6 separate regions of the Homo sapiens genome follow, and all the other regions are linked to region 5. Evidence: fine-mapped QTL for protein levels in blood plasma. Region 5 holds a variant in brackets. A gene starts in each other region. All regions are shown on their reverse strands. Distances are from middle to middle.

Region 1 (5,146 bases), not on the chromosome of region 5:
ACAAGGGCCTCTGCATCAGCCACATGGAACTGGCCTACCCCTGTTCCCATGTCCCCCTCCTCCTGACCTTTCCCCCATCACTTCTTCCTGTCAGCTGAGAGGTACCCTGGATTGACCCTGCCTCTCTGGCTTGGCTTTCCTGTCCCCACAGTGGGTGATGGGGCCACTTACCAGCTTCCGAAGGGCTCCCTCATCCAGCCCAGCTAAGGCCTCGTCCGCCATCTCGCTGGCCCCTAGCTCCGTCGGTTCCTTTCTGGTGAGATCCCCAGTGCCTGTGGCACCTGTCACCAGCTCAGAGAATTCTGCAGGGGACAGACATGAATCAGGCATGCTGGGGCTTCCAGAAACCACAGGCACTTAGGCTCTGTGCCTTACTTTCCCTCTCTAACCTAGGAGCGTCCATTACTGTCCCATCCTATAATGTGGCTCCTGGCTGGAAGCTGCCCTCTGCCCTAGGGTGGTTTGCTGGAAAACTCACCAAACCCAGGGTAGGGGGTCTCTGGTTCCAGCCCTGCCAGCTTGGCCGCCAGTCTGCTGTGTGGCCTGGGATGGACTCTCATCCTGTCTAAACCTCAAAACAGGGAGGGCAGGGACCTGGATTGAGAAGCCAGGGCCTGGCAAGACCCACCCAAGCTGTGCTTACCACCAGGGGGTGCACTCCAGTCTCCAGTTTCCTGCCCCACCCACCCATCCACAGGGCCTACCCAGCCCCCACCCACTCCGCAGGCTCAGCTTCTGGCTGTGGGCTGAACCCGTAGTTCTTGCTGCCACCACCACTGTCATTCCCCCAGGTATAGGAAGGTACACTGTGTCTTCCGATTCTTGGAGCCAGCTCTGCTGTCCAGACCTCCTGAAGCCAGGTGTCCAGGCACCCAGCACCTCCTGCCAATTCATACAGAATTCAATTCCCCACCTGGAAGGGCTTTCAGAAGCTGACCTGCCCAACCCCTGGATTTCAGGCAAACTGAGAAGATTGGAGAGGGCCAAGGATTTGTCACTGAGCAAGGAGGAAGCCAAAGACTTAGAGGGCAGAGAAGGATGTAATCAAAATCTTCGTCATCTCCGGCTTCCGAAGCTCCCTTCCAAAGTGCCCTCAAGGGCCTGGAACACTCTCAGTGACAGAGGCAAGAGCCCCATCTTGCCCCAGTGCTGCCCATCAAAATGGACCCCTAAATCCTGGCCCAGCCTCCCAGCGCAGATCTCTCCTTCCTCCTGTAGCCCCAACTAATGTCTGTCTGGAATTTGAGGGGCCCTGGTCTGGCACACTGTGGATGCTTAGTTAATGTATGGTGACTGACTAATGTGTGGCCCCAGGCCTGCCCCCCACCTCCTGTTGATTCATCTTTCAATCATCCCTTCCCTCTCTTCAGAACAGTCACTTGGGAAGTCACCCCATACGGTGCATGGGTGGGGGGTGAGGGTTACCGCTCCACACAGTTGGGGTGTGTGGGTCCCAGCCTGTTCAAGTCACTGCTTGTTCCCCCTCCCATCCTGGTAGGCTCAGAGGTGTCAACCTCCCAATCTCTGCCTGTTAGGATCCTTGCCTCTTACCTAGTTACTCTGTCTGGGTTAAACCTCTTCAAGACTGTCCAGTGGTCACCAGCCTTAGGTTCTGCGGACATTCTGATTCCCCCCATGTCTGTTCTTCTATGGGGCAGCTGACCCTAATGCCTAATCTAGGACACCCATGGGATTATAAGAAGATCCCTGCCGCTGCTCTTCTCCAATCTCCCTGTCACACAGTCTGGGGTCGCCGGACATTGTGAGGGGCCTCAGGATTCTGTGGCAGCTTCCCCAGGGTTTCTGCCGCCACAGACTAGCGCCCCTGTGGGGCGTGGAGTCTCTTAGGAATCCGGGGGCGTCTTCCCCCAACAGTCTCATAACTTTATCCCATGGCTTAGACCTCTCGTATGGGTGGGGGCTCCCAGGTCTGGACGTTCCAGAACTCCTGTCTAGACATCCGGGTTCCACCCCCGGACACGTTGGGGCAGCACCAGGATCCCCCCCGAGGTCCGCACACCCACCTCTCAGTCCAGCCCACCCGTCCGGCGCAGGCTCGGCTTAGCTCTTTCGGGACCCGACAGACGGATTAGACACGCGCAGGCCGGAGGTGCCGCGACCCGCTGTCCCAGGCCCGCTCAGCAACCGTCCCCTGGATTCTGCGGAGAGCTGCCCGTCCAGCCGCGCCAGCAGCCCGGCTGGCCCCGCCCTGCCCCGACGCGCCAGCCAACCCTCGATTGGGTACCTCCCACTCTCGTGCCCCATTGGGAAAATTCAATTTGACGGCCACGCCCCGAGAGGAAGGCCCCGCCCCTCGCGGGCCAGGGAGGTCGGAAATTGGGAGTCTTGGGGTCGTCTGCCTCGGTGGCTTTAGCGAGTCGGGTGGGCATCGGCAGGGGGACGCAGGCTCTGCGCCAAGTCGGGGGGGGCGCCCCGAGCCGAGGTAAGTTTCCTGGGGTCGTAGGAGTCTCAGAGCCTTCAGGACAGCCCCTCTCCGCCCTCCTCTTTGTTCCTGAGACCACGTCCCCTCCCTCGACTCCACCCCTTTCTCGCGTCAGTGTTTAAGCTTGGCCGCCGTCCCTAGGCTGCTTTCGGGACACCTGGTCTGAGCCACCTCAGAGCAGGGACTGAGTGACTGGCAGCACCTTGACCCTGTGTTGGAGTGCCGGGACCATCTCAGGTGGAGCAGAATCAATCACACAGCACGCCTCCCCCAGCCCACACACCTTTGAACAGACATTGCCTTCTTGTAGCATGCTTCTACCTTCCAAGCCCTGAGAGTCTGCCTTTAGGAGCGCTGGAGTCCTAAATAGGGAATATGGAGTCCAGGCTGTCATTCAGCAAAAGGGGGAAATTGAGGCCCAGAGAGAGCTGACATGTCCAAGACCAAACAAGGAATCAGCCAGGGTACCCAGGAGGTCAGATCCACAAGGCAAAGCTATTCCATCTTCAGTGCCAGAGGCCCTAAAGCCGCCCTTGGGTCTCCATGGAGACTAAAGTGGGTGGAGTTGGGAGGATGGGGTCTGGAGTCCTGTCAAATAAAAACAATAACAAATCATTTATTTTGTACTTGCCATGTACCAGGCATATAATGCCCATAACAAGCACATGAGACCATGACTATTGCCCCATTTTACAGATGAGGACAACAGCTGATAAGTAGTAAAGCTGTGATTCATACCCAGCACCTTCTGAGTCCAGACCCTGCTTTTAACCACTATAATGTGGGATTCTGGGGAGGTGGTTTCAGCCTGTTAACCCAGAAGAGCCCCGGTTCAGGTCCTCTGTGACACCCCCCAGCCCCCATCTAAGGAAAGGCCCAGTCTCCACACTGAGAGTCTTTTCCATGTGTCATTTCATTTCATCCCCACACCCCTGAGAAGTGGTCCCATTTTACACATCAGAAAACCAAGGCACGGGCCAGGTGCGGTGGCTCATGCCTGTAATCCCAGCACTTTGGGATGCCAAGGCAGGTGGATCACCCAAGGTCAGGAGTTCGAGACCAGCCTGGCCAACACGGCAAAAACCCCGTCTCTACTAAAAATACAAAAATTAGTCGGGCAAGTGGCATGCACCTGTAATCCCAGCTACTTGGGAGGCTGAGGCAGTAGAATCACTTGAACCTGGAGGCAGAGGTTGCAGTGAGCCGAGATTGTGCCACTGCACTCCAGCCTAAGCGACAGAGCAAGATTCTGTCTCAAAAAAAGAAAAAAGAAAATCAAGGCACAGAAGAAAGCGACTTGTCAATGCTACACAGCAGGAGAGGCAAACAGAGCTCACTTCGGAGGACATATTTCAAGGTCCTAGGCTTTCTCTACCTGGGCGAGATGCCATGTTATTATCCAGAACGAGGGTCAGGCGCCCTCTAAGACCAATTCTGAATACTTCAAAATTCACGCGTCCCTTGGGACCTCCCCTTCATGCAGGGCACACCTAGGCCACCTCTGATTTTCAGGGCCTGCCTGAATGGCGGTCACCAGCTCCAATGAATGGCCTGCTTTGTGCTAATGCCCTCCTTTCTCCCTGCCCTACTGTAGGCTAGGAGGAATGGTACAGGTGAGTTCCTCCATGCTTGGATTTACTGTCTGGCACATGCGCTCACTAGCCCTTGGCCCTATGGAAGGGATGTGTGGGTCCTGCCCCTTCAAGCCCTTAGTGCCTGGGTCCACCTCCAGACATACCCGCCTGCCTCTGTCTTCCTCTCTGCAAGGGAGTGGGGGTGATCTAGAGATCAAAGGGCAGTCCGGTACAGTGCTAGGGAAGTTTACAGCTACAGCCGAGGAAAGAGTAAACATCCCGTGACGAGGGCCCCAGCATTTGCTGAACACCTGTTGCATGTCAGACGTGGGGCTCCCACTACTGCCAGGTGACCACTGTGCAAGATAGGTACACTCTGATTCGACAGAGGAAGCTGAAGCTCAGGGAGGTGAAGGCACCTTGGCCTAGTAAAGGCATTCAGACTAAAGTGGAATTCTGCCTGATGCTGAAGCCCCTTCCCTCCACTTTGCTGCCACTAGGATGGGGGAAGCTCTGGAAGACTTCTTAGGGAAGTGGTGTATAAACTGTGTGTCACACTTGTTTTTATTTTATTTTATTTTTTTTGGAGACAGGGTCTTGCTGTGTCCCACAGGCTGGAGTGCAGTCGCATGATCACAGCTTACCATGGCCTCAAACTCCTGGCTCAAGCAATCCTTCCATCTCAGCCTCCCAAGAGGCTAGGACTACAGGCACACACCACCACGCCCAGCTAATTTTTAAAATTCATCCCACATAGAAGAGGGGGAAAGGCATGAAAGGGCATTTGTGGCAGAGGAACAGTGTGAGCAAAGACCAATAGTCTGGGAAAAGGAGGAGGATAGGCTGTGGGCGGAGCAGGAAATGTGGGTGGTTCTCTTTGCCAAGGATTCTGAATGCCAGATGAGCAGGATGAATGTATCTTGTGGGCACCAGAGAGGCCTGGGCCTCAGCCTGCCCCCTGTAAAATGAGGTGATTAGACTGGTCTGCTTCAAGCCTTCCTAGGGCAAGGGGCTGTCACAGAAAGGGTCTACTCTAGGTTCTTCCAGGTTCAACCCTGGAAAGGCAGAATGGGAAGTGGCTGGAGCAGCTCAGAGGCTAGGGGTAATATTTTGCTCCAGAGCTCAAGTC
Region 2 (5,146 bases), not on the chromosome of region 5:
ATGCTCGAAGGATGACTTCCAAATAGGTCCCACCCTGGGAGGTGGAGAGACGTTGGCAAAACTCACTAAGAAAAGTGGTCTCTCCACATGCTTCTAAAAGTCTGTTCTGACAAAAGCAAAATGTCCAACTCCATAGCCTGCTGCTCTGGGCCATCCTCACTCCCACTTCCAACGAGCCGCACTTCGATTAGCGAGGGCAACCAGAGAGGGAAAAAGACAGTGTGGAGGTGGGGAGATGGGCAGGGAGGGAAATGGAACCCCAAGCCCAGTCCGGTGCATGGTCCCCAGGCAGTGCCCTGCCCCAGCTGTCTAGGGTGACGATTCCCCTGAAGGACTCCCTCCTGAGTTTCTGGGGAAAAGTCCCCAGAGGCGCTGAGACAGGGCCTAGTCCCCCGGCAATGGCACAGTCCCTGACCACACCTTCCTTCTCCTCTCCACTTTTCTGGGGACCTCTGTTGTCCCCCACCTTCAGCTAACCCCTGGAGAAACACAAGCCCAGTTAGCCCAGGGTCAGGAGAGAGTTGGTGGCGGCCCAGGGATGAGATCCCAGGTCCTGGGAGCCAGGCCAGGCTCCTGGCTCCTCCCCCAGAGCCCCAGGGCAGCCCCCACACCCAGACTCCAGCTCATCCAGTTAGCCCAACAAGCACTGATCGTGCCAGGGAAAAAGGAAAAGAGTGTTTTAATTGACAAGCGGAACACGGACAATGATTCTTCCCACTTGTCTTCCAATCGTGAAGCAGAGAGAAGCATTCTTGCTGGCAGGCGGCGGGCTGGTCCAGACGTTCGCTGAGCCCACCGTCCCATCGCTCTGCCCGCCACTTCTCCTGACCTGGCAGCACACAGCTCTGAGCCTCCATCTCCCCGCCTGTCAATAAGGATTCGGGGGACCTTCCAGGGCTGGGGGCTCTGATGTTCGAGAGTCTGTGAAAACCCACCCCGCCACTAACTACCAAGAGCGATGCCTAGAAAAACTCCCCCGTCAGGAAGCTGCGCCAGGGAGAGTTGAACCCTCGAGAACCCAGGCAGGGACGCAGACAGTCCCCGCCTTGAAGCGCCCTCCCCGGGAAGCAAGCCTCCTTCTAAGGGCTGACCCTTGGCAGAAGGAATCCCACATCTGCATATCATCCCAACCACTCACAGCCCCGCCTGCAAGCCCATCTCTGGCTTTGCTCCACGCATCCCATCTCTCAGCAGCGAATCCAGGAAAAGCTGCCTTCCAGGGATCAAGAAGTTTGGGGGTGGGATTAGGAGCAGGGCTGTCTACCACCCTGCAGGGGTCCCCAGTGCCCCCGAACACTTAGGTGACCAAGGCTGCAGGAAACGCTGTCCCTGGGGAAAGCAGGGCGCCAGCTCAGCCTAGAGTGACAGTGCCTGGGGGAAGTTCAGTGCTGGGGGCCCAGGCTTCTGGGATTCCCCCCATCCCCAGGAGTCCCGGGATTTGAAGGGCTGTAACTCTAGGGGGCGGCCCTGCCCGGTTTGGAGCAGAGGAAGTTCTGCTGTAGGGCTGTGAGGGCCCAAGCTGGGCGCCTGTGATGTGGGACAGAGAAGGAAGGTTTTTGGGACAAAAGTTTGCCCGCCTCGTGGACAACCCCTCCTGCTGATCCAGCCCTCGGTCCTTCCTCGGCTCGCGCGACAGCCCCACCCGACCCGCCCGTCTGGGGAGGGGGCGGCGGCGCGCCCGCGGGCATTGTGTCTGCGTGTCGTCATCTCGGGGGGGCCCCCAGCAAATGGCATTCGTGGTCTTGGCCCGTGCATTCCACAGGCCAAGGAAGAAAAGTTCTGCGGGCGAAGGCGCCCGGGGATGACAGCGGCGCCCGGGCTGCGCGCGCCCCATCCCGCAGCCCCGCGCCCCGGGGCGCCCTTACCTGCGCGGCTCGGAGGCGGCGCCCACAGCAGCAGCAGCAGCAGCGGGGGCAGCAGCGGGGCGCCCGGGCGGAGCGCGCTGCGCGCTTTCCAGCGGGTATGGACGTCCATGCCGGCGGGGCGCGGGCCGGGGCGCACAGGGGCGCTCGGAGGCGCGCGGGGACGCACAGGGGCGCGGGTCACGGCCCGGGCAGCGCACTCAGCAGGGACCGCACCACTTTAGGAGGTCATGGGGACCTCGGCACCCCCCGTTCTTCTTTGTGGCGGCGGCTGTTCTGGAAGGGGCGGCTGGCGCGCTCGCCCACGGGCGGGAGGGCTCGACTTTGGCCCGCGGGGCGGCCGGGACCCCGCTGGGCTAGCTCGCCCTCGCCTCCTCCTCCTCCTCCTCCAACTCCTTCTCGCCTCCTCCTCGCCGCCGCCGCCCCGCGACCCGCTCCCCGTGGGCGCTCCGCTCGAGTGAGGTCCTGCGCCAGCCGCGGGGACGGAGAGTGCGGACCTCGCCTTCGGCGCGGAGCACTTTTTTCCCCCTTTTCCTCCCTCCCTCTCTCCTGGAAGGCAGCCGCGGAGGCTGTCGATCCCCAACGCCCGCAGCAAATCAGAGCCCGGCGCTGGGCTCGGCGAGGCCAGCCCCCGCCTCCCACTGGGCGCCGCGGGCGAGGGGGTGGGGACAGCGGGCGAGTCGCAGCGAGGAAGGGGCTGGCCCGGGGCGGAGCGGACGTGGGGCGGGCGCGGCCCCCTGTTCTTTCTCTGAGAGCCGGTAGGCGGGCGGGCCTGGGGCGGCCTCGGAGCCCAGGGGCCCACCCTGGTCCCCCCACTGTTCCCACCCCAGGTGCCCGCACCTGGCCATGCTCCAAGAACCAGTGCAGAGGGGCCCCGAGGTTTGATCACTTCGGGTTAAAAAGAAAGTTGCAGTTTACCCCGCCTAACTTTTTCTTTAACGTGGAGGAGTTCAGAGCTCCTCTTCTGGGTGGAGACTAAACTTCCCATCCAGCCAGATCAGGGCGCCCAAGACTGTGGCCTACGTGTCAACCCGGACCGAGGACCTGCCTCCTAACTGCAGATTGGCACGGGACCGAGCTGGGGTCTGACTTCCCAAGAGCTCCCGGGACCTCCATGTGCTTGGACGGGAACATCTGGGTTATTAATCAGGCGAAGTTTGGCTCTGCGGCCCCCAGGCTCTCACCCCTCACTCCTGCCCACTCCCTGGTGGCCCCTCTGCAATAAAAAGGAAACCAAAGAAGGCATCCCCTTGGGAGTGACAGCTGGCGCAGGGAGAAGGCATTCCTGATCGGCTGCTCTCGGAGAAGAGCTGGGGCCCTGATTCTCCTGCCTGGCTTCTTTAAGCCCCTCGGGGTCTCCTCCAGCAGGAGGCCCGCCAGTCTCTGGGTGGTAGGTGGGCGTCTCTCCCTCCAGCTTCCCCAGGCCTGGCCTCCCTGCACAGCCTCCTGAAGCCTGACCCACACCCCTTCCCCAAGGGCTGCAGGGCTAGTTTTTTAAAAGGAGGGAATCAGAATGAATTAAGAACGATTTGCAAACCCTGGGCCATCCCCATTCCCTTTGAACAAACAATTTAGCCAGAGATGCCAGACAGGGCTGGGACTCCCCTCTCCAGTTACATCTCCAGACTGGGCGTGAAATTCCCCAAATGCTCTTTAATTCTCACCATTCTGGAAACAGGAGGTGAGAGAGGCGTCCGAGGTTAGGTTTGCCAGGATAGCCATGGCAGGCTCCGGAGCTGGGTGATAGGTCGCTGTTGCTAACTTGGTGATGAGGCTTTTAGTCTCCATATCTGCCACATGCGCTTGCATAGATATCAAATATTTCGCAGGAAAAGAATGAGAAGCTCTTCACACACAGACGTGGGGAGGTGCTTGAGATACATTCAGTAAAGCAAATGTTAGTTCTGACCTGTTTCCTTGTTGATTTTATTTTGTTTTACAACTTGTATAAGGCATATGTGATCAGGCAAAAATGTGTGTGAGTTGTGTGCATGTGTGTGTTTGTGTGTGTGCCTGTGTGCGTGTCTGTGCGTTGGTTAACCTGCAGCCACTGGCCCTTTACTTTCCCTGTGGACTTCAATGAGTGAGAAATTCCATCAAACCCCAGACTCCGCGCCAGCCCCAGCTGTGCTTGGTCCTTGGAGTGCCCCCGCCCCTACCAGCAAGGCCAGCTTCACCCCTGAAGACTAGGGGTGCTGACACAGGCCATGGCCTGGTTATCAGAAGAGAGTGGAGGCTTTCTGGTTCCAGCTTCTTTTTCCCCAAGCACAAGTGGAGTTCCTTTCTGACAGTCCCATGTGCACATCCGTGCCAGTCAGCAAGCCCTCCTGTAACTCACAGCCAGCATCTAAACTTTGCCCTGAATTAACACAACTGGCGCCTTAAGAGCTGACACTCAAGTGACCACCCCAAGGTCCCCCAAAAGTTGACTTCTCAGCAATGGTAAGATGGCTCAGTCTTGCAGCTCAAGCAGCCATGACAGATGCACTTTATCCTCTCTTGGAGAGCAAGTGGTGCGGTGGCTTGGAAAGCTGTCAAATGTGAGTTTCCACCCTCATCTGAGCCTTGAGTTGGGTGGAGAGATGAGTTTCTATCCCACCAGGAAACTCAGAGAGAAGTCCCCAAACTTGGCGGCCTGATGTGTCAGCCAGGGACTATGGCAGAATGGCCCGGCAGTACCAATCAGGATTCGAACTGTGTTGCCAAGCTAAGAATATCAGCCACATCTTAAGGCTTTTGCCTCACACTCTTCACCCACACGTGCATCAGTTCTCATGCACCGGTAGGGAATACTGGCATCTCTCCCATCCACAGATGAGGAAATCAGGGGCCACAGAGGGTAGGGGACTTACCCAGTTCATCCGTGACAGGGTCCGGATTTGGACCCAGGTCTCCATGCTTGGAGCCCAGTGTGCACTGCCTGCCTCCCCATGGCATCCGGACCACACGCCTGCCGCCAGGACCACCCTGCCCAGATTCAGACAACAGCAACTGGTGCAGATTGTCCCAAACTCACCATGTTCCATGCCCTCCCACAACTGAGCAAAACCAGAGTCCTTGGAAAACTGCTTATTGCGCGCATACTCCTTGCCAACACCGCTCTAGGCTTTAGGGAGTATGTGGTGAGCAAGGTGCCTGGGTCCCTTCCACATTGACCTGCAATGCAGCAGTGACTCCCACGCCCATGCAGAGGTGGCCCCTTTTTTGCATGTGTGTCTTCCTTGTCTTCTGCTATCCATCGTTTCCCATCTAGCCCTCCCCGGCTGCCTGCTCCTGTTCATGGC
Region 3 (5,146 bases), 45 Mb after region 5:
CAAGTCCTGCCTGTTCAGGCTTTTCTTGGCCTGTGTAGCATTCCTTCCTCTAGAGTATGGGACAGAACCCTTTCTGGAATGAGGATCTTATGACCCACAATCAGATTAGAGTCCTGCCTTGGGCAGGTGAAAGAAAAACAGAAGGTCAGAGAGAGATTCCGTTTCCTGAGGCCTGTTCCTGAAGCCTAAAGTGCCCCAACATTATAATATAAAAAAAAGACTGGGCTGGGCACAGTGGCTCATGTCTGTAATCCCAGCACTTTGGGAGGCCAAGGCGGGTGGATCACAAGGTCAGGAGTTCAAGACCAGCATCTTGCCAAGATGGTGAAACTCACTCCAGCCTGGGCAACAAAGCGAGACTCTGTCTCAAAAAAAAAACAAACAAACAAACAACAAAAAAAAACTGTAACAAGGGTTATGGGAGTTATAAGCCAGGAACCATGGATAAAAGCCAATATATATATCATAACACCACAACCCGAGACTGAGCAATTTATAAATAACAGAAATGTATTCTCTTACAATTATGGAGGCTGGGAAGTCCAAGATCAAGGCTCCAGTGATTTCAGTTTCTATTTCCAAGATGATGCCACTTTGCTGCATCTTTTGGAGAGAAGGAGCATTGTGTACTCACCTGGCAGAAGAGCAGAAGGTACCAACCCATTCCCACAAGCCCTTTTTATAGTAGCATTCATCCATTCATGAGGGTGGAGCCATCATAACCTAAACATTGTCCATTAGGCCCTATCTCCCAGCACTATTAGGGATTAATTTTCAACATGAGCTTTGGAGAAGAAAAAAATATTCAAACCACAGCAGTAATTTGAAAACATAAAAAGAAATGGGTGAAATTAATTTTAATAATATATTTTATTTAACCCAAAAAGTCCAAAATACTATCATGTAATCAATAAACAGTATAAACATTATTAACAAGATATTTTATATTTTTTTCTGTACCCAGTCTTTGAAATCCAGTGTGAATTTTATACCCATAGTACATCTGAGTTTGGACTACTCATATTTCAAGTGCTCAAGAGCCACATGTGGGCTAGCGGCTACCACATAGGACAACACAGTTCTAGAGGAAGCATGGCATGACTTTGGAGGTCATCTAGTCTGACTTGTTATTTACAGCAAAGTTAAGTACGTTGCCTGAGGTTATACAACTTATTAGTAGATGAGGAACAATTAGAATCCAATTATCTTCATGCTACCCCATGCTTTTATTCACAAAGCTGATTGGCAGCAAAGCTGCACTAGCGCTCATGCCTCTTCACACCTGCTCTTGGGCTCTTTTCTACAAGGCATTGCCCCCCTTCCTGTCTTTCTCCTAAATAAGCTATTGTAAAAAGCTTCACTGGAAACAATTTGGCTGTGAACCAAGACTAAAGTGGGGTTTAATACTTCCATATCTTTCCACAAAGATACATTTTTTATGACTTGTCACCCTTGTCCCCAGAAACTCATGGTTTCCATAAGCTACTTAAAAACTGATTATGCAATGGGTCTCAACATAAGTGTCCATCAGAATCACCTATAGAGCTTTTACAAAATTCAAATGACTGGTCTCCTACCTGGGAGTTCTGGTTTACAAATCAGGGAAAGGGGAGAGTCATTTAGATTGATTTTTTTTAATGTTCCCCAAATGATTCTGATGCACACCCCACCTCACAGTGACCCTGCCAGCTGCCAGATCTCCATTGACATCCCCTGACCCCCAGGCAGGATGAACACAAGTTAGGAGCTTAATAAGTCGAGGAGGAGCCTGGTCTTAAGGAAAGAAACATGAGAAATAGATACCCTGAACACCTCCCAGGGCGGGGCCACCTGGCTTACTTTTCCTCTGCACTTTCTCTGTGCCCAAGGACACCTTTAGCCTCATTTCCTGATCGAACAGCCTCACTTGTGTTGCTGTCAGTGCCAGTAGGGCAGGCAGGAATGCAGCAGAGAGGACTCGCCATCGTGGCCTTGGCTGTCTGTGCGGCCCTACATGCCTCAGAAGGTGAGTGGGGGCACTGGACACTTAGGCCTTCACTGGAAAGGGGGGTATCTCCCAAATCTGTGCTGGAAGGATTGAGGTGGGGCAAGAATATCTATCTCTTCAAGCAGGAATTTCCAATTGATTTCTGATTACCTACAAGAGAATGACATAGCTTTAAATTCTAGATCTCCCAGAAGTTTCAGGAAGGAACCTCATTCTAACAGGCATACTACAAATTTTTGCCACCTGGAGGATGAGGTCCTTCCATGTAGGTACAACTTCGAGCTATGTTTCCTTTTCTGAAGACAGTATCTTAGAAAATCCCCAGCTAGAGGCTGGAGTAAAGCCCCTACTATTCATCTGTCTTCCTCCACACCCCAACCTGCTAAACGGTCTGAACACAACTGTGCACATTCCTGGAGGGAAATACAGACTTGGCCAGCTGCGTTCAAATTAGGTAAGTTGTAAATTTCCTGAGCAAAGTCAGCTCTATGGATACAGAAAACTGAAACTTCAGTCTGACCTTTAAAAAGGGAGGGCAGAGCTGAGCACAGTGGTGCATGCCTGTATTCCCACCTACTTGGGAGGCTACGGCTGGAGGATAGCTTCAGGCCAGGAATTCAAGATTGCAGTGAGCTATGATCACACTGTGAATTGCCACTGCACTCTGAATTGCCACTGCACTCCAGCTTGGGCAACATAGTAAAACCCCATCTGTTAAAAACAAAAAGAGGGGAGGGGAGGGGAAAGAGAAGGAAAGGAAGAAAGGAAAGGAAAGAAAGAAAAAGAAGAAAAGCAGGATGAGGGAGATTGAACCATACAAATTATGTCAAAGAGAATTTAAATCGTGAGTTGCTAGCATGTATTTGGAGATTGTAACTGCATTTGAACTAGAGGGAATCTCTTCTAAAGTAGCACTCACTACTATATTCAGGAAACCCTAAGTGTCAGTACTTAATACTTGACCAATGACTCTTTTCCATTGTCATCTTTTCTTTAAGCTTTATCCTGAACAGATTCTCTAAGTCTAGAGCAGAGGTGGAATATAAGTCTTTGGTCTGCTTTTTAAAAATCTGAGCCAACATTTTAAAACTGAAAGCTTTCTCATGTACATACTCATACATACACACATACAAATTGGATTTTAAAGCTTCTCTTGAGAAATCAGATGTGGCAACAATGATTCCACCATACCATGGCAAGAACTGGCTAAAGCAGATGAGCCTCTGAAGTTTGCTGTATTAACTGCCTGGTCCCTGCAGGCATTTGCTTAGGGACTCCCAATATAGTCCGTCAATGTACTGGGCTTATACAAATAAGCAACAGAAAAAACCTGGACAATCTCTTCTCAATTTCTACTAATCTATCTATCTTATCAATATAAAGACAAAAATTTGTCACTTTATGTTTCTGTAACATTTCTCAGAAAAATTCACCATTGAGATTTGGGGACTCATTTTCACTATTTCTGAAAGGCCTACCTGCTAAGGCTTCACTCCTAGTTCTGGTAATTCCACCAACTCAAATTTTTTACATAAAACTTTGAAATGTGTACCTCCATCCAGCTTCCTGACCTACTCCCACCTGTCCCCACAGCGGCAGCTCTCCTACAGGAAAGGAGGGAGGGAACAGCAGGTCGAGGAGGCAGAGGGTAATGAGGAAGGCTCTGCCATACCCAGGACCCACCTTCACATGGGACTGAGTCCTGGTAGAGACGGTGGGGTGGAACGGCAAAATGCAGAGGTGTGTGAAAAGGTACGGCTGCTGGTGATAATAAGGAAGGGAGCCGAGAGACCCAGCAATAGCCTTTTGGGTTAGTCTCGATGCTTTACCTAAGGCAGTTTAGGCCACAGGAAAATCACATTGCCTGAGAAGCTCCAAACTTCTGTCATTTAAAAATAAGTGATACTGGGTAAAAATACACAAGTAGGCCTGAGAACAGTCGTGGAATAGAGGGGCAACGCCACAGCTATTCTTAACAAACTTCCACTCAAGTGTCCATGTAAGCCAGGTGCCCTGTGGGAGGCACTTAAGTGATTCTGGCTCCAGGGAGGGGGTGGAAAACCAAGTGGGGAGGGAGGAAGGTAGAGAACACTCAACAACTCAACAGTGCAGAGAAGAGGACAGGTGGCCTTGGCAAGGGGAATAGGAAAAAGGCCTGTGCCAGTTTGGAACTTTGGGAAATATATTTTGTTTCCTTGAGGCAGAAAGCTGTTCCCTTATCTTAATGGTGTCTTAAATGGCTATCTTGTTGTGATGGCTCAATAACTGGCATTCCCTAAGTGTTTTGCATAAATCAGGAAGCAGGTGACTTTATCTATAATTAAAAGCCTTGGATTCTGCCCAAAGGTAGGGCACACTCCACCTCTGCTGACGTGGCTGCTGGCTCCCAGAACTCAATACTGAATCCATAAACATGTCTATCATCCTGTTTCGGTGGCCCTGAGCCTGATTATTTAAACCCACAATCTAGGACTTTGTGGGCCTGGCTGTTTTATTGTACATTAAGATTAAGGCTCACTTGTGCCCAGCAGATTCAAGTTAGGAGGTTTTGCTGCAGTGAGTCCCAAATTGCCTTCCCACTGACAACCTTCTTTCTCAGAGTACAATGGCTACTGAATCACACCAATACTTGCTAGAGATTTGCTGCTTGCATCCTAAAACGTTTACCTTTTGTTTTAATCATAAGACTCTGGCTAGGGAAGGTTACCACGAATATACATTTGTGACTCAATGTTGTTCTGCACAATTGGGACTCCAATTGTGGTCCCTAAGAGGTCTGACATAGGTGGGACTACAGGTGCATGCCACCACACCTAGCTAATTTTTTGTTTGTTTGTTTTTGGAGATGGAGTTTGTTGCTCTTGTCGCCCAGGCTGGAGTGCAATGGTGCAATCTCGGCTCACTGCAACCTCCGCCTCCTGGGTTCAAGCAATTCTCCTGCCTCAGCCTCCTGAGTAGCTGGGATTAGAAGCGTGCACCACCACACCCAGCTAATTTTTGTATTTTTAGTAGAGACGGGGTTTCACCATGTTGGCCAGGCTGGTCTCAAACTCCTGACCTCAGGTGATACACCCACCTCGGCCTCACAAAGTGCTGAGATTACAGGTGTGAGCCACCATGCCCAGGCACACCTGGCTAATTAAAAAAATTTTTCTTGTA
Region 4 (5,146 bases), not on the chromosome of region 5:
ATCCTGAGAACTCCAGTGCCGTGCACACCTCTGTCCCAGAAGCATCTAAATCATGAAACAAGCATGGGGTGGGTGGTCTGGGTTCCCCAGGCAGGGGCTGCCTAGAAGAGAGGTACCTTGTGCTGGTCCCGGGAGCCTTCCCTCCAACCTGCTCCCTGGGTCCCTCCACACGCTCTGCTCCTTTGCTGGTCTCCTCTGGCTGAGTCCTCGGCTCTGTCCTTCACTCCTCCTCAGCACCGGCTGTTCTGGGAGCTGACTGGGGCTCCAGAGTACTTGGACTCATGCTTAAACCTCTCGCCTCCTCTGCCCACTCAGACTTTGGCTTCTCTCAAACGCTCACCTTTTCTCCATCCTCTCCCTGCCCTCCCAGACATAGCAACCTGCAAAGCTATACCCAAATAAAGGCGCAGCCATACCCAGAGCCGAAATAAACAGCGACTTAGCTCCTTCTGGGCACTCCTGTAGGACACAGTCAGCTTCCCCTAAGTAGGAATGGTTAGAAATTGGCATCAGAAGATCTAAGTTTGGGCCCTGGCCACTTATTAATGAGGAGCTCCTGGGCAAGTCCTTTACTTGCTCTCACTTTCCATTTCTTTCATTTGTGAAATGGAGCTGATAACTTTCTGGTAAGGTGGTTCTGAACCAACTATAGTCAGGCACCATGCCAGGCGTGAGGATTTAACCAAGATGAAACAGACCCACTCCCCGCCATCATTACACACACCGAGGCATTGAGAGGAATTCCTATTTCCCAGGTCTCAGTTTGCTGTCGGCTCTCGGCCTCAGTTCTGGCTGAAGCAGACCTAGAGTCTGATTCTGGCAAGTGGTTTAACCCCAACACACGGTTTCCTTATCTGTGAAGGGGGCTTCTTAACCCCCAAGGAAGCCATCAGTGTCATTTGGGGATAAACACTCTTTTGCCATCACCCCTCCGTCTCTAGGCTGTTCTGCCAGGAGCAGGTCCTGCCCTGGGCTGTGGAATCTGGGGCTCAGAAGCTGCCAGGTACCCACCTCCTGCCCTCCTTGCACTGCCTGCCTCTGCCTTTTCCTCACCATGCCTGGCCCTAGCAGGCTGGCTCTACACGGTCACATATGTGACTCCCCTGGCTTTTGGAGGTGCAGACCTTTGTCCCTTCCCCTTGGTGTACCCTGGGGTGCAGGTGGAAGAGAGAGAGACTCTGGGGTGCCCACATCACCCCCACCCTGGAACAGCAGGCTTCATAGGCAGGACCCAAGTATGGACACTCTGCAGACTGCAGAGGGCTGTGCAGACCGGAGGTGACAGCAGTTGGGGTTAGACATCACCCTGAGCACTGTTTGCTCAATAAGGAGCTTTTGTTGAAAGCTGGCATTTTTCTTTCCAATTTTTTTTGGCTTTTTCCATCTCCCATCTTCGCAGCATCTCCAATGCTTGGAGTCTTGGAGTTTTCAAACTCAGAGACTCTAGAAGTCACCTAACAACTTCGTCGCTTTACGCTGCTCCTGGAGGGTGAGTGACCCACCCGAGGCCACACAGCCAGGTTAGGCGAAGACGGGTCTGGAGCCCGGGCCCCTGACTCCCAGTTCTGCTGAGGGCCCCGTTCTTTCTGCACTGTTTCAGGTGGGGAGAGAGGGCAGGCTGGACCTGTGCAGTTTGTTTCCCCAAGTGTCGCACCGTCCTCCTCACCCTGCCAGCTTCAGCCAACCTGGGCAGCTGACTCCTCACCCTGGGCTCTGTCCTTGCCCTGTAAGTGGCCACCTTCCAGCCCCAAACCTTCCTGGCCCTTTTCATCCTGCCCACCAGCCCCCATGTAGCAGGACCCAGTAGAGAAGGGAGCTGGGTCTCCCTCTGAGCCCCTCCAGGCAGGACTCACCGTGGCCAGGACGGTGCTGGCGGCTGCTGCTGTCACTGCTGCCAGCGTCCAGGGCAGGAACCACCTCATGCCTGGACGTCAGTGGCACAGGCATCGACCGAGCAGCCCAGAGGATCCGACCACCTCTCGGGGGAGCTGGGCCCAGACTGGCCGGCCCATCAGGAGCACCAGATATGCCTCTTCCGCAGCCCTTGGGGGGTTTTATTAAAGCAAGATCTGACGTCAGGGTGAAGGACAAACCCTGCATTTTCCTCTGAAAAAACTTTTCCTGCCTCTCTCTCTTTTTTTTTTTTCTTTCTTCCCTCTGTCCCCACCTCCAGCCTGAGCTTGGCCAGCCTCCCCAGCTCTGACAGTTCTTAAAGGGAAAGTTACAAGGCTATGACTTCACACTAGGGTGTGAAATTCTCACAGAGGAGCTGGGGTCATCCTGCCTAGGTCTTTCACTACTGTAGGGAGGGGGGAGCATGGGAGGGTGCAGGATGTCCGAGGAGATACTGTTACCCCAGGCAGGCGGGTGTGTGGGCTTTGAGAGGGCTCCCAGTGGGAAATCAACTCCCTGTCATTTCTTCAGGCTGCTCCTACTTCTGGTTTTCTTTTTCCTTTTCTTTTTCTTTTTCTTTTCTTTTCTTTTTTTTTTTTTTTTTTTTTTTTTTTGAGACAGAGTCTCGCTCTGTCGGCCAGGCTGGAGTGCAGTGGCGCGATCTCTGCTCACTGCAACCTCTGTCTCCCAGGCTCAAGCAATTCTCCTGCCTCAGCCTCCTGAATAGCTGAGATTACAGGCATGTGCCACCACACCCAGCTGATTTTTGTATTTTTAGTAGAGACGAGGTTTCACCATGTTGGCCAGGCTGGTCTCAAACTCCTGACCTCAGGTAATCCGCCCACATCAGCCTCCCAAAGTGCTGGGATTACAGGCGTGAGGCATTGCGCCCAACCCTACTTCTGGTTTTCATTTGCCCTCTTGCACTCCCCTCTACCTAGCTGCAAGCGAAAGAGGTGGCTTTCAGTCCACCCATCTAGAGATGATAGGAATTCACAAATAAAATGAGCTCTGAGGCTCAGGTTACAGCATCACCTTCATGACACGTGAAAGCCACGGTAACGCATTTGCTGTTTGCCGTCTCTGCTCATTGGTCAGAAGCCGTTTGGTGCTGGAGCTGTCCCCACGTGTCTCTGGATGCTTGCTATCCCTGGGGGGTTGGGTTTCCTGGCCTGTACCCTTATTGCACTGCTGCCACTGAGTCTCTTCCTTGGGCAAGAAAGGAGATGGGATGTCTTCTATGGGCTGTCCTAGTCCAGCCCTGTGCTCCCCATGGGGACCGCTGCCACAGCCTCCTGACTGATACCCAGCCTCCCTGCCCACCTTCTACCATCCACACATCTCAGAGCAATCCTTGAACTAGCGTCATGTATAGATCATCTTCTGGATACAACTGTCCAAAGCCTGCCCATCACACAGCACAGAGTCCCCAGTCCTGGCGTGGCCCCTGGGCCAGCCAGCTCCCTGTACACTTCTTCCTCTCTCCCTTTCGTGCACCATGCCCAACCACAATGGCCTCCTTGCAACTCCTCTCACACCTTGGCAAGTTCTCAGCATCTCCAGGTCTCAGTAGGAATACTCGACACTGAGGTTTAAATGACAGTTACTCCTTCTCTTCTCTTTTCCTGTAGCTTATTAACAAGGGATGCTGAAGCATGTGTGGCTGCTTGGAGGTAGCAGCAGGCTTGTGTTCATGGAAGAGGTTTATGATCCCTATAGACATGACCCCAGAAGAGATGGTGCTCATGATTTCTCCATTTACTGACCTGGGGATGTGCCTCTGATCCAATTCCGGCCAATGAGACATAAGGGAAACCTGCTAGGGTCTTCTAGAAAAGATTCCCTTCCTCAGGAAGAGAATGACCATCTACTCATTCTTTTCTTTCCTTGTGTGCAAATGTGATGGTTGGAGCTGCAGCAGCCATTTTGGGTATATGAGGCTGAGAATAAAAAGTCAACAAATTGAGGATGGCAGAGTGGAAGCAAAAAAAAGGTCTGAGTCGTTGGGACTTCATGTTGTTGTTGGAGCCACCATTCAGACTTCTCATTACATGAAATAATTTAATATTTTATTGTTTAAACTGTAGTTAGTCTGAATTTTCTTTTGTTGGAGTCAAGTTGTATACTAATTGATACATGAGGATTACTAAAATCATATATGTAAAATTAAAGGGCAGGGTATGTGGGGGGCATGTAAGGACTGCCCAATAAATGTCAGTCATTTTCTTCTCATTAATTTATTGATGCTTAAAAACAAATCCCAGGCTGGGCACGGTGGCTCACACCTGTAATCCCAGCACTCTGGGAGGCCGAGGCGGGCAGATCACAAGGTCAGGAGATCGAGACCACCCTGGCTAACACAGTGAAACCCCGTCTCTACTAAAAATATAAAAAATTAGCCAGGCATGGTGGCGGGCACCTGTAGTCCCAGGTACTCGGGAGGCTGAGGCAGGAGAATGGCGTGAACCCTGGAGGCAGAGGTTGCAGTGAGCCGAGATCGCGCCACTGCACTGCAACCTGGGTGACAGAGCAAGACTGTCTCAAAAAACAAAACAAAACAAGCAAACAAACAAAGCAAAAAATAAATCCTAGGAGGCCAGCATTGTTGACAGGTGTCATTAATAAATAACCCAAGGTGTTAGGGGCCAATCTAGGCTCACTTGGCTTTTGATGAACACTAAGTATGAACGGGCTCTGTGCTGTAGAGCATCTCATGACTACAAGGCAGACAGTGTTATGAAATAGGTGGAACACATCTCAGAGATGCTAGATGGTTTCAGAGCACACGTATGAGTAGTAGATCTGAGGCTGAAACTAAAGTCTCTTAACCTCAGACAAGGCACAGAGTCAGGACCAGACATTTCCAAGCCAGCTTGACCTGCCAAAGCCTCTCAATGTTAAGTGTAACAAGAGCCTGCAGAGCTGGAAGCCATTGAACTCCACCATCATTTTTAGGAAATCCAATTGTCTCGAGCAATTGAAGCAGGCACCCCAAAACATGATCAAAGTGCTGACCATTCCACCTGTGGGTGAAACCTCACATGACCCGGTGAGCCTCATGGGCACCTGCCATTCTTCAATGTCAGTGAAACTGAAAACAAACGGCCCAGTGACCTGGCCAGGATGGTAGATTTGGAGGCAGAATGCCAAGGTGTCCCCCAGCTCTTCCATTTACTGGGGGCCTCGGACAATCAACAACCTCTCTGTGCCTCAGTTTTGCTTGTTTAAAGAAATGATGTTAGTGTCTACCAGA
Region 5 (5,101 bases):
TCAAGGCTGGTTCTCTTTCTGGGACTAGCCTCAGTCTGAAGCCAAGGAAAGGTTCATTTGTGTGCACAAAGTCATGGAAAGCCAGACTAAAACAGAAATCAGAACACAGGAGCATTTGTCTGTGCTCAGTATAGTTAAACACTGCTTGGAAAAATAAGGTATTATTGGTAATAGAATTTATAAACCGTACTGAATACACATCACTAATCCCAAAGTATTTTAAATTGGCCTTTAGGCAATGCATAAAATAAGCCCTTTCAGTAACCTCAACTGCATTGCAAACATTTCCCGATTTGACAAATTGTGTTAGCTTCGGATATAATGGATTTGACATTCTTCTGTAATTCTCTATCAGATATAAAACTGAAGGTACAGAAATACAGATAAACATAGAATCCTTAGATATGTGTAAACCTTGTCTTGAAATAACAAATCCTTTGTATATTGCAAATTCTCAATCACAGACATTCCACATGCTGTATATTCTTCTTGGGTTAATGCTGCACCTAGTGAATTTTTGAAATTTAGATATTTGGCACTATTTATGTTAAAGATTATTATCACAATGCATGACAATTTCAGTTGTCTTATATTCAAAACACTTTGGTTTAAAATCAGAATATTGTTACTTCAGATTAGAAGTTTTAGAAATAAATCTATTTGAAAGTATTTTCATATCAGCATTAACAAAATACTATATACTGTTTTGCACTTCCACATTTGAAGGTGCCAAAGAAGAGTTGCAAACTGTGAAGTAACTTCTATGAAGAGATGAAGTAAAGAACGGAAGGCAAATGATTGTGGCAGTAAAGAAGTGTATGTGGTGAGTGCTCACATTTGTTTTTATCATTTACCACAGAGTTACCATAAAGGTAAAACTGCCAAACTCCTTGGCCTTAGGTATTTACAGAATAGACGTGTATAACAATAATAAAGAGTTAAATGACCACCATACACTTTATATTATAAGCAATGACATATCATTTTGCTTAAAGATCATGTCATCTTTCAGGGCCTACTTTTGCAAGTACTGTATCTTATAAAATTAATCTATTTCATGGGAAGTCCTGTGTATCATCAATACTATAATTAGACAAAGATTAAAATATGTAATGCTATTGGAATTTGTGTTTCACTGCTTTTTAGATTTTTCTAAACCACCATGTTCACTTATCATGTTTGTGTTAAAAGTATTCTGGCTGAGGAACAAATACTATACAGTTGAATAATCTTAAGGGGTACATTAATCTATAGCCTTTCTTCATCTCAGGGTGGGTTGCTGTGGCAACCGCCCCAGTTCACTTTAAAATAATTTTTAAAGCTCACTTCAAGAGCTACACCCAGCGTGGGCCAGGCTTAAAAGCAGGCAGACCCAGTGCACAGGGCTTTAGTGGACCGCTGCTTTAATGTAGGGAAGTAGTGAAGAGAGGAGGTTGGAGTAAGATGGTATGCAGCTCTGAACAGAAATTGCAATATTAGCTTTCCCTGGAGTTAAAATCCCGAGGAGCATGCTCTCTGTAACTTCTATGACACTTTAATTAAATATATTGCTAAACATAATTCTTTTGAGGGAAAAACAAGTGACTCTATATTTACATTAACAATAAAGCATTTACAACTTAATGTAGGAGAAATATTTGGTGATTAGAAAAAAATAAAAGCTGGTACAGTAGTACATCAATCCCAGACATAATTTTCTTTTAAAGGAATTGTCACCTATTATTTAACTGGATAGACCCTACCTTCCAATTGGTTTAAAGGGTAGAAACATTTTCTGTTTTCCAATGATAGAACTGGAATAGGTTACAGAACTCATTTAACACATAAGCGAACTGAAGCCTAGAAAGGACAAATCCCTTAGTAAGGCACAAATTTTGAACTAGATAGAGAATCCAGGTCTCCTGACACCTAGTACAAGCTCCTCCCTACATGAGAAAATAGTCTGATCCTAACCAAGTATCATTAGATGGCAAGGATCAGGATGATTTTAAAGAAAAAACAAAAACAGAAACAGAAACCAAAAGTCCAGAAGTATTTAAAGAATACAAAGCACACTCTGGATTAACTACTTTGTGGATTACTCATGAATAATTTTAAATCTCAGGTGATTTTCTAATGTATATTTCTTCATATCTCTTCTGCTTCAACTGTAAAGGCTCATGGGAAGAAAACTAATGGTAATATTAACTTAGGTCACACATAATTAAGAAGCTAAATCTGCTGAGGGGAAAATCCTGTATTTTAAAAGGCCAACTGTGATACATTCCAGATCCAAATTATTTTCAAATTATCCAGTGTGGGGTTATACTTATTTTTGAATGCTTGCAGTATCATTAATAATTATGGGTTTGTTATAATGGGTATTATTAAATAATTATTTAAAATATGAAAAGGTAAAATAAAATAATTTCTTTTTGAAAGAACATCTAAAACTGAAGTGTACTGTGGTAAACAGAAATACCCTCTATAATTCATTAAAAACAGCAGGGCTGAAATTCATGTATTGGCTATGTGTTTGCTCATGTCAAATAGACTGTTGTAACTCACTGCATTAATTTTAGGTATTATGGCAATAAACTTAGATGGTCCTTCAAATGCTTTGCTTTTTCAGGACCTTCGTGAATCTTGAAGAAAATTAATTTTATTTTTACCACCATATATAGACATATCTTAGTATTCGAAATATCTTTGCCCTTTAAATTTTTGGATTTTCAGAGAAGTTGTACTTTGAATGGAAACCTGATACAGATGTTCTCTGCCATATTATTAAAATGAATTCATGGTAATGGCAAACTCAACATTTGAAAAACCGGCAAACAAAATACATTGTAAATACTAATCTGCAAGAAATACTACTATTTCAGATGGTTTTTGCTTTGTGACAGTTTGTGATGCATTCCTATAATAAAAGGGAGGGAATGGTCTTAGTTTTGCTGATAGTCACAATGATGAGCTGGAACTTGAAGATTGTTCAGATCTAGTTGTACTTGCCTATAAAATAAACCTTCCCCTTTCAAGTGAAGCCTTGGGACAGTTGCCTAAATGTTGAGGCCACTCTTCTGAGAGAAGCTACTCACATCAAATACCTCCTACATTGAAGCAGGAGGCTTTTTGAACCATACTGTCCTCATATATTAAAATAGTCATCTGGAGGCATATTGCTGAACTTAACAGGAAATACAACTAGTCATTGGGTTAAACGTAGTGCTAAAAGGAATTTTCTAAAGTGAGGAAATCTTTAGTTAGCTAGATATTTCAATATACTATTGTCTAATCTCATATATTCCATGTTCTATTAATTTTCCCTTCTTGCTTTCACAATATTTTTTAAAAAATAGTTTGGTTTAAACATTTTATGTAATCTATAATTCTACTGGCATGCAATCTTGTCTTTTCATGATTCTATACTAGTTGATGTATTTTATCTTTGGCTTTATTGGGCATGGTATATATTAACAGTTGGTTAGGGCGGGAGGTGCCCAATCTCTAGTAGCCTAAATATTAAAGCCTTTTTTTTTTTTTTTTGTAAGGAAAAGTGTTTATCATGCTTTAACCTTAACATAAGTATCCTCCCTTATCAGTCTCTATTTCTGCTTCCTGTGCAGCTGAAACTCTTCAGGATAAGTGAAGTCATCAGCTATCGGCTAGGGTAGCCTAATGCATTTGGGAAGTTGGTTTGGTTTACATGTTAATGACCTGGATGAAGTCCAGTAAGGTGTGGAAAAGATAGAGTGGGGGGAGGGGGGGAACTCCGAGGAAGCTGCTTCCTCGGTAAATATTTCCAAACTGATTAGAAAGTTCATGGCCCCGCGATGAAGTCGAGATCTCAAATACTGGTAATTATTTTATTATTTCGTACATTACTAACATTAGAGAAACCTTTCGGCTCGCTTTCTAGCGCTCCAACCTCTCAGGGTGAAAACCGCGACTTCTGGGCGTGCAGGA[A/G]AAGCACGCTGGAATCGAGTGCTGCAGACATCCTGGACCGTGGTTTTTACGCGTGAGTAACGGAGGAGCGCACCGACCGGTGGAAGAGAGAAGTGGCTAACGCGTGTCCAAAAGGGGGAAAAGTCACAAGAGCAACTATTAGGGTCGCGCTCCTATTGGTCAGAGGAAAGATCCCGACTTTAGAAGGACTTTCCTGCTGGCTGGCTCGCAGCGTCCCCGGAGAGCAAGCGAGCGCGCCGCAGCGGGAGACTAGGTTCTCTCCGAGCGTCCTCCGCAGAGGCGCCGCGAGAGGAGCAGGGAGCCGCAGCTCGCCGTGTTGTCTTCATTTCGTGCAATAAAGAATTGTCATTAGGTTTGCGTATGGCATGTGCTATTACCCCACCGTAAAACTAAAATTAGCAAAATGTCAGGAATGGAAAGATTGATTCACCAAGATGCAATTATCATTTAAAAGTGCTTGATTGAGGTACTGATGTTCAGTGATTTATTCTGCATACCATATACATAATTAAAGTAGTGTAGTGGAGTAATTTATCAATCTAGTTGAGACTGGAGGGGTGAGGAGGGAGCTGCTGTATGTTTGTTTTATTAAAATGCTCCGAGGTCTAGTCCCGCCCCCCTTTTGCAAGAGTGAAACTGATGATTTCTCCAGCTCGCGAGGAAAGAGTCAACGGTTTGGGATTGTGGGGGAGAGAGAGACGGAGAGAAAAAGGCAGCGCGAAGCAAAGGCAAGGACAAAATTAAATAAAGGGGGAAAAAAGGAGGCAAAAGACATTTCATCGGACGTGCTGCTTAGAACCCCAACCATTCGTGCTCCGTCTTCCCTACCACCCCCGCCTCCCCTCCCAGTATCCTTCAATCCCCCCCGCCCCCACCACCCCCAGTCTTTTTTACGCGATGTTTCAAACGCTGTGAGCTGTTCTCCTTTTCCCATTCGTCTTCTGTCACTTCCTTCCTGGACGCAGTTTTCTGGACGAGTCTGGTTACTTTTAATCCGACCGGCCGCTGAGAGCCACTTTCTCCTCCTCCTCCTCCTCCTCCTTCTCTTCCTCCTCCTTCTTCCTCCTCCTCCTCCTCTTCCGAGCGGCCTCGGCGCGCGCGAATGCGCGGCCCCGCGCCCCCCCCCTCGCGCGCGCTCCCCTCGCGCGCGCGCACA
Region 6 (5,146 bases), not on the chromosome of region 5:
ATTTCAGGCCTCTGCATTTGGCAAAGTGCCTCCTAGTCTTGATCATGTTTTTTTTTTTTTTAATATCTGGCATGTATTTCCATATAGCAGCGTACAGCACAGAAACTCTCAAATACCCTTTCATTCAGCAAACACACACACTAGTGCCTGTTCTGTGCCAGGCACACAGGAGGCCTTGGGAAGACAAAGATGAATGAGATACAGCCTCTGTTTTCGTTGGTGACACAACTGAAGTATAGCTGTCATGGAGGAGGAGTTACAGCCAACACAGAAAAATTATTTCATTTTATGCTTCTCCATAAGACCTCTTCTAATGTGCTTGAATCTACTGTCCAACAGAGAAGAGGACCTGGACACTTCCCTCCACCACCACCCCCCGCCCTTCTCCTGAAGACCTGAAATTGAATCTCAGTTCTGCCACTTACTGGCTGTGGGATCTTGAGTTCCTACTTGAGTTTTCAGCTTTCTCATCTGTAAAATGGGAATCCAAACTGTACTTACGTCACAAGGCTGTTGGGAGAATTCAATGACATAATGCACGAAAATATTTTCTCAACATATGAAGCCCTGCATCTCCTTAGTCATTCATTACATTTGTCTGCTCACAGTTCTCTGGCTTGGCAAGTGTCATCAAGCAAATGAGACGTCAAGCCATCCTACTGTGTTTGTTAGTTCCATCTGCTGCTGTCCCCTCCTGTAAAACGTGGACATTTTAAAAGACAGCGGGGAGGGCCTCCTGGAGACAATGTATGTGAGCCTCCCTCCTAGAATGGCAGTGAGAGAAAGTTCTCCTAGACAGGTATGATATCACTGCATTTTAAAGATCTTACCGAGCCAGTGGTCCCCTGCCCCGTGGGAGGAGAGTGTGGCTTCACTCTTGGCCCCAAGGTCACTAAAACCTAGACTGTGCTATCACCCCCCTGACCCGTGTGTCTCACCTTGGGCAGGTCTGTGGCCCCACGGATCCGTTGCGCCACCTTCTCTCCATCGGGGTGGATCTTGGCCACGTGTTTCCACATCCTTTCCCAGGTGGCCTCATCCACAGGTAGCCCACCCCGGTTGACAAAGAAGGGGACGCCTCCGTCTCGCAGGTCCTCTTCCCCTTCCTCTTCTGGCTCCTCATCTCTCTGGGCTGAGGTTCCTTCGCTGGTCTCCAAACGCCTGACCCCAGAGGGGGCGGTGGCCGCAGCGGACGTTGGAGTGGCACCGCTGCTGCCACCCCCAGCCACCTTCTTCCCCCCTGGCATCCCTAAATCTTCGAGGGGGGTGGTGGAGGCGGGAAAACAACTGGCTCACAAGAGGCCTCCCACACACCGGCTGCAGAGATAACACATGGCCAGAGTGCAAGGCGCCTTTAAGAAATCAGGGCGTGGCTCCTGTACAATAAAATACGACTTGATAAAAAAAATCAGTGCAATAAGGTGAATTAGGGTCCGAGGGGGTGGGTTGTCTGGGGTCAGCCTTGGAGGCCTTGTTCTGTTTGAAAAACGGAATAAAGAGAACACACCCCAACTTGGCAGCCGTCACAAAGCACCCCCATCTAACTGCGAGAACAATGACGGGCAGCAGTGAGGGCTGGCAGAGCGGAGAAAAGTCGGAGGGAAACTGAGGCCAGACAGCTCGGACCAGCGGCTGCAGAAAGGACAGAGTCAAGGCACGGGTGCCCACTGGGCGCCCTGGGTCTCAGTTTCGGAGGGAACAAAATCCCCTACACAACTCTCGCACGCTCACATCTGCGCGCGCCCCAAGGAAGACCGAGGCGACTCCCGGCCGCGCGAGCTCGGAACCAAGACCCCCGGGCGGGAGAGCGGCGCTGGGGGGCGATTTCTCCGACGCGACGAGACAAGTCCGGGAGCCAAGACTCGCAGCTGGCCGGGAGCGGGGAGGGGGCGCGCGCCGACGCGCACATTCCCCGCCTGCGGCCAACTCCCTGCACAAAGTGGGCTTTGTCTGGGTCCCCTGTCCCCTCGTCCCCAGAAACAGCGGCGGAGTCCCCAGAAAGGGAGCGGGCGCGGCGGGGAGGCGAAGGCTGCGAGCCCCGAGGCCCAGCGGGTCCCCACTCGGGCGCGTCTCAGCGGGAGGACGGCTGGCACCTGGCGCCGCGCTGCACCAGCCGAGCCATCGCAGGGCACGGGGCCCGCGGCTCAGCGGGACCGGCTCGGGCGGCGCGCAGGGGCCAGGCTGAGGTCACTGAGCGGCGGGCTGCGGCCGCGGGGTCGCTGCCTGGGACTGGCTGCAGCATGGGCGGTGGCGCGGCCCGGGCGGGCGGAGGATGCTCCGTGGCTGTTCGCTCGGGCTGCAGCTGCCCTGGCTGAGGGTGGAGGAAGGACCGCGGGGCGGGGACCGCAAGCCCGGAGGCTCGCGCAGCCTCGGCCGGCGGATGTAGCTGGAGGCGAGTGACGAAGCCGGGCGAGCGCGCGCTGCGCTGGTGCCTGGGGAGCAGCCCGCCAACGCGGAGCCCGCCAACGAGAAGCCCACCAGCCGATCGCTGCTCGGCGAAGCTGGGGCCGCCGCTGCTGCAGCCCCGCCGCCCCTGGGCCCCGCTGCCGCCGACCACGTCCCCTGCCAGCCAGCCGCCCACCAGGCTCGACTACGGCCCGCGCCGCGCATGCGCTCCGTCCCCCCCTTAAAGGGCCAGCGCCTTCGCGCCCAGTCCTCCGCCCCCCGCGGCGGTGCCTCTGTCCCAAGTTACCCCAAGGACGCCGGTGGGCATTCGCTCCCTCCTCACCCAGCTGTCAGGGCGCCGCGAAGCCGGTGCGAAGCTGCGGAGGACGTTTTCAACGTGCCAGAGGGAGCGCAAACTCCATGGAGATTCCTAGCGCAGAAGGAATTCCTGCGGTCGGGAATTTCTTGAAAAAGATTCTTCGCAGGGGCCCTGAGCCGGTAGGACCGAGAGCACTGGCCTGGAAGACTGGGATTCTAGACCGGATTCAGTGCCTGTGTTGCTTTGGGACGTTCAGCAGTTCCCTTCCCTCTGTAGGCCTCAGTTTCCCCATATCCCAGCCGAGGTGGTCACAGTGAGTGAGCGCAGAGTCCCTCCCAGCGCGCACAGTTCTTAGAGGAGGACATCTAGGGATTGAGACGGGGGGTCACTATCTCTGGAAACGAAAAGGGTTAAAAGTCACCCTGTTTTATTCGATTGCCTGCACTGGTGGGAATGGGGTGCGCAGAGCTCACCCCTAGACCATCTGCCTAGACCGGGCTTTGGACGCTCTGGACCCCGCGGACCAGGGTGGGACCGCGACGTGGGCGTGGGAGGCAATGCTTGGGGAGGGTCCGCTGGCCTAGAGGAAGGTGAAAGTACAACCAGCTGTGGTGCGTGGTTGGACACTGGACGCACCCTCCGCCTCCCTCATGCCATAGAGTTGTAAATGGTGGGAAAGGCACTATCTCTAGGCTGAAGCCAAGAACTTTAGGAAGAGACGGCCGAGTGTGTGCTTTAAGATGCTCCCCCTCTCCCCTGCCTGTAGTTAGCATGAATCACAGTCTTGTGGGAGAATGCAGATTCCTTGGCCTTAGCCGGCAGATTCAGATTCCTTAGTTGTGGGGTCGTTGCATTTCTTGACAAGCTGAGGTTACTACACAAGGGCTGGGTTAAAGGCCTTAGAGAGACCCCAGGGCCTCAGTGGTTTCACATCTGTTCTCTAAAGCTGTCCCTAGTATCTGAACTTTCTGGGTACCCTGTGCTCCCGTAGCAACCTCTTACTACCTCCAGGGTCAGAAACCAAGGGTTATCAGTGATGGGAAGGATTGCAAGACTCCAAGAAAGTTAGTTCAGCCTGGATCTTCTTAAACTCACTAAGGCAAGAAGACTCCAAGCGTAGAAAAATCACTAGGGATCAACAACTATCACCCTGTATTGTATAAACCAAGTCTCAGAGGGTAATTTCCCCAAACTCACACAGCTAGTAAGTGGCAGAGCTAGAATGTGAACAGAAGTCTTACTTCTTCAGACACTTGTTTTTCACTCTATACATTGCTTCTTGTGTTAGCCAAGTGGTGCTGGTTTTAAAATTGGCTTGCAAGCTCTTGACCATTCTTTTCAAAAGATGGGATCTAATTCCTTTCCCCCTGAATGTGGGATGTACTTGGTGACTGGTGTCTAATGAATAAAGTGTGATGAAAGTGAAGCTGTATGACTCTTAAGACCAGGCCATAAAAAGGAGACAGCTTCTTCTTGGTTCCTCAGAAGAAACCAGCTACCATGTTGTGAAGAAGCCCAAGCCACATGGTGAGGCCACATGAGGGTGTTCTCGCTGACAGCTGCTGCTGGGCTCTCAGCCAACAGCCAGAGTCAATCACCAGATCATGGCAAACCGAGACTTCAGGTCTTGCCAGCCCTCGGCCTTTAAGTCTTAGAGTTGAGGTCCCAGACATGGAGCAGAGAACAACCAGCCCTGCTGTGCCCTGTCTGACTTTCTGTCCCACAGAAATTGAGAGAGGATAAGTGACTATTCTCGTTTTAAGCTGCTAAGTTTTGGACTAACTTGTTACGCAGCATGAGATAATACCATGTGTTTTCTGAAATGACAAATAAAATAGATGTAGGGTATTCATTCAAAGAGTAAGTACTCATAGAACATCTTCTATGTGTTTGACTCTGTACTGGGCACTGGAGAAGCAGTAGTGAACAAGAGGGACATGGCCTTTGCTCTAGTTGGACTTATGGCCTACTAGTGGAGGAGATAGTTAAGCATGATTTCCATAAGGTGCTCTGCCAGAGGGTTATTCAGGAAGCTGTGGGAGTGCATACCCAGAGCAACTTCCCAATCAGGTGAGGAGCTGGGAAAAGAAGAAATGAGTTGGGTACAAGGTCAGCATGGACTAGGCTAGAGAATTTTCTGGCATGTGTGCATAGAAGTGGAAGAGGGTATGTGTCAGGCAAGGGGGCTTGCAAATAGATTAGAAAATGGTGAAACTGGAAAGAGATGTGTATAACCCAGTCTTATCTAAGCCAAAAGCCCAGAGAGAACAAGTGACTTAACCTGGTATGGCACAACTTTTGAATTGGTCTCAGATCCTGGGTCCTTCATCAAGCCCTCCCATGACTCCCCACACCTATGCCTTGGGAACAACTCCTCCAACAGACACTTGGGTAACTCCTTATTTGGCTCAAAGCTTTCGTGACCGTTATTTTTCTTTTTTT

Alleles and levels. Positions count from the first base shown, and alleles are read on the strand shown. Strength reflects both the effect of a copy and how common the allele is.
In carriers of allele G in region 5, the plasma level of the protein whose gene starts at base 2,163 in region 1 tends to be higher than with A alone (weak association).
For the plasma level of the protein whose gene starts at base 2,359 in region 2, allele G in region 5 goes with a higher level than allele A (weak association).
As copies of G replace A in region 5, the plasma level of the protein whose gene starts at base 1,867 in region 3 goes up (weak association).
For the plasma level of the protein whose gene starts at base 2,028 in region 4, allele A in region 5 goes with a lower level than allele G (weak association).
For the plasma level of the protein whose gene starts at base 2,601 in region 6, allele A in region 5 goes with a lower level than allele G (weak association).

What was found. PIP is the posterior inclusion probability: the model's chance that the variant is causal. The UK Biobank Pharma Proteomics Project read protein levels with antibody pairs (Olink). The fine-mapping took linkage between variants from a reference panel, not from the people measured, so its PIPs are less certain.
Region 1: it holds the start of SMTN, and the variant in region 5 is fine-mapped to the plasma level of the SMTN protein (UK Biobank, PIP above 0.99).
Region 2: it holds the start of COL5A1, and the variant in region 5 is fine-mapped to the plasma level of the COL5A1 protein (UK Biobank, PIP above 0.99).
Region 3: CCL28 starts here. The variant in region 5 is fine-mapped to the plasma level of the CCL28 protein (UK Biobank, PIP above 0.99).
Region 4: it holds the start of CCN4, and the variant in region 5 is fine-mapped to the plasma level of the CCN4 protein (UK Biobank, PIP above 0.99).
Region 6: VASH1 starts here. The variant in region 5 is fine-mapped to the plasma level of the VASH1 protein (UK Biobank, PIP above 0.99).

The regions. Positions count from the first base shown.
Region 1 is chr22:31,078,335-31,083,480 of GRCh38, reverse strand. It overlaps SMTN (smoothelin), which reads right to left and starts at 2,163. Exons shown (of 21, transcript NM_134269.3): 1 at 2,025-2,163; 2 at 172-302. The coding sequence starts at 222. RefSeq lists a silencer at 2,122-2,281.
Region 2 is chr9:134,639,016-134,644,161 of GRCh38, reverse strand. It overlaps COL5A1 (collagen type V alpha 1 chain), which reads right to left and starts at 2,359. Exons shown (of 66, transcript NM_000093.5): 1 at 1,866-2,359. The coding sequence starts at 1,974. RefSeq lists an enhancer at 674-1,380.
Region 3 is chr5:43,409,112-43,414,257 of GRCh38, reverse strand. It overlaps CCL28 (C-C motif chemokine ligand 28), which reads left to right and starts at 1,867. Exons shown (of 3, transcript NM_148672.3): 1 at 1,867-2,005. The coding sequence starts at 1,942.
Region 4 is chr8:133,187,921-133,193,066 of GRCh38, reverse strand. CCN4 (cellular communication network factor 4) reads right to left here and starts at 2,028. Exons shown (of 5, transcript NM_003882.4): 1 at 1,854-2,028. The coding sequence starts at 1,922. RefSeq lists a silencer at 909-1,156.
Region 5 is chr5:88,883,224-88,888,324 of GRCh38, reverse strand. It overlaps MEF2C-AS1 (MEF2C antisense RNA 1), which reads right to left and starts at 4,995. Exons shown (of 10, transcript NR_136219.1): 1 at 4,840-4,995. It also overlaps a transcript of MEF2C not described here. RefSeq lists an enhancer at 4,034-4,083. The variant A/G (reference allele first, on the strand shown) is at 3,946.
Region 6 is chr14:76,758,923-76,764,068 of GRCh38, reverse strand. VASH1 (vasohibin 1) reads right to left here and starts at 2,601. Exons shown (of 7, transcript NM_014909.5): 1 at 939-2,601. The coding sequence starts at 1,247. RefSeq lists silencers at 2,075-2,344, 2,445-2,634.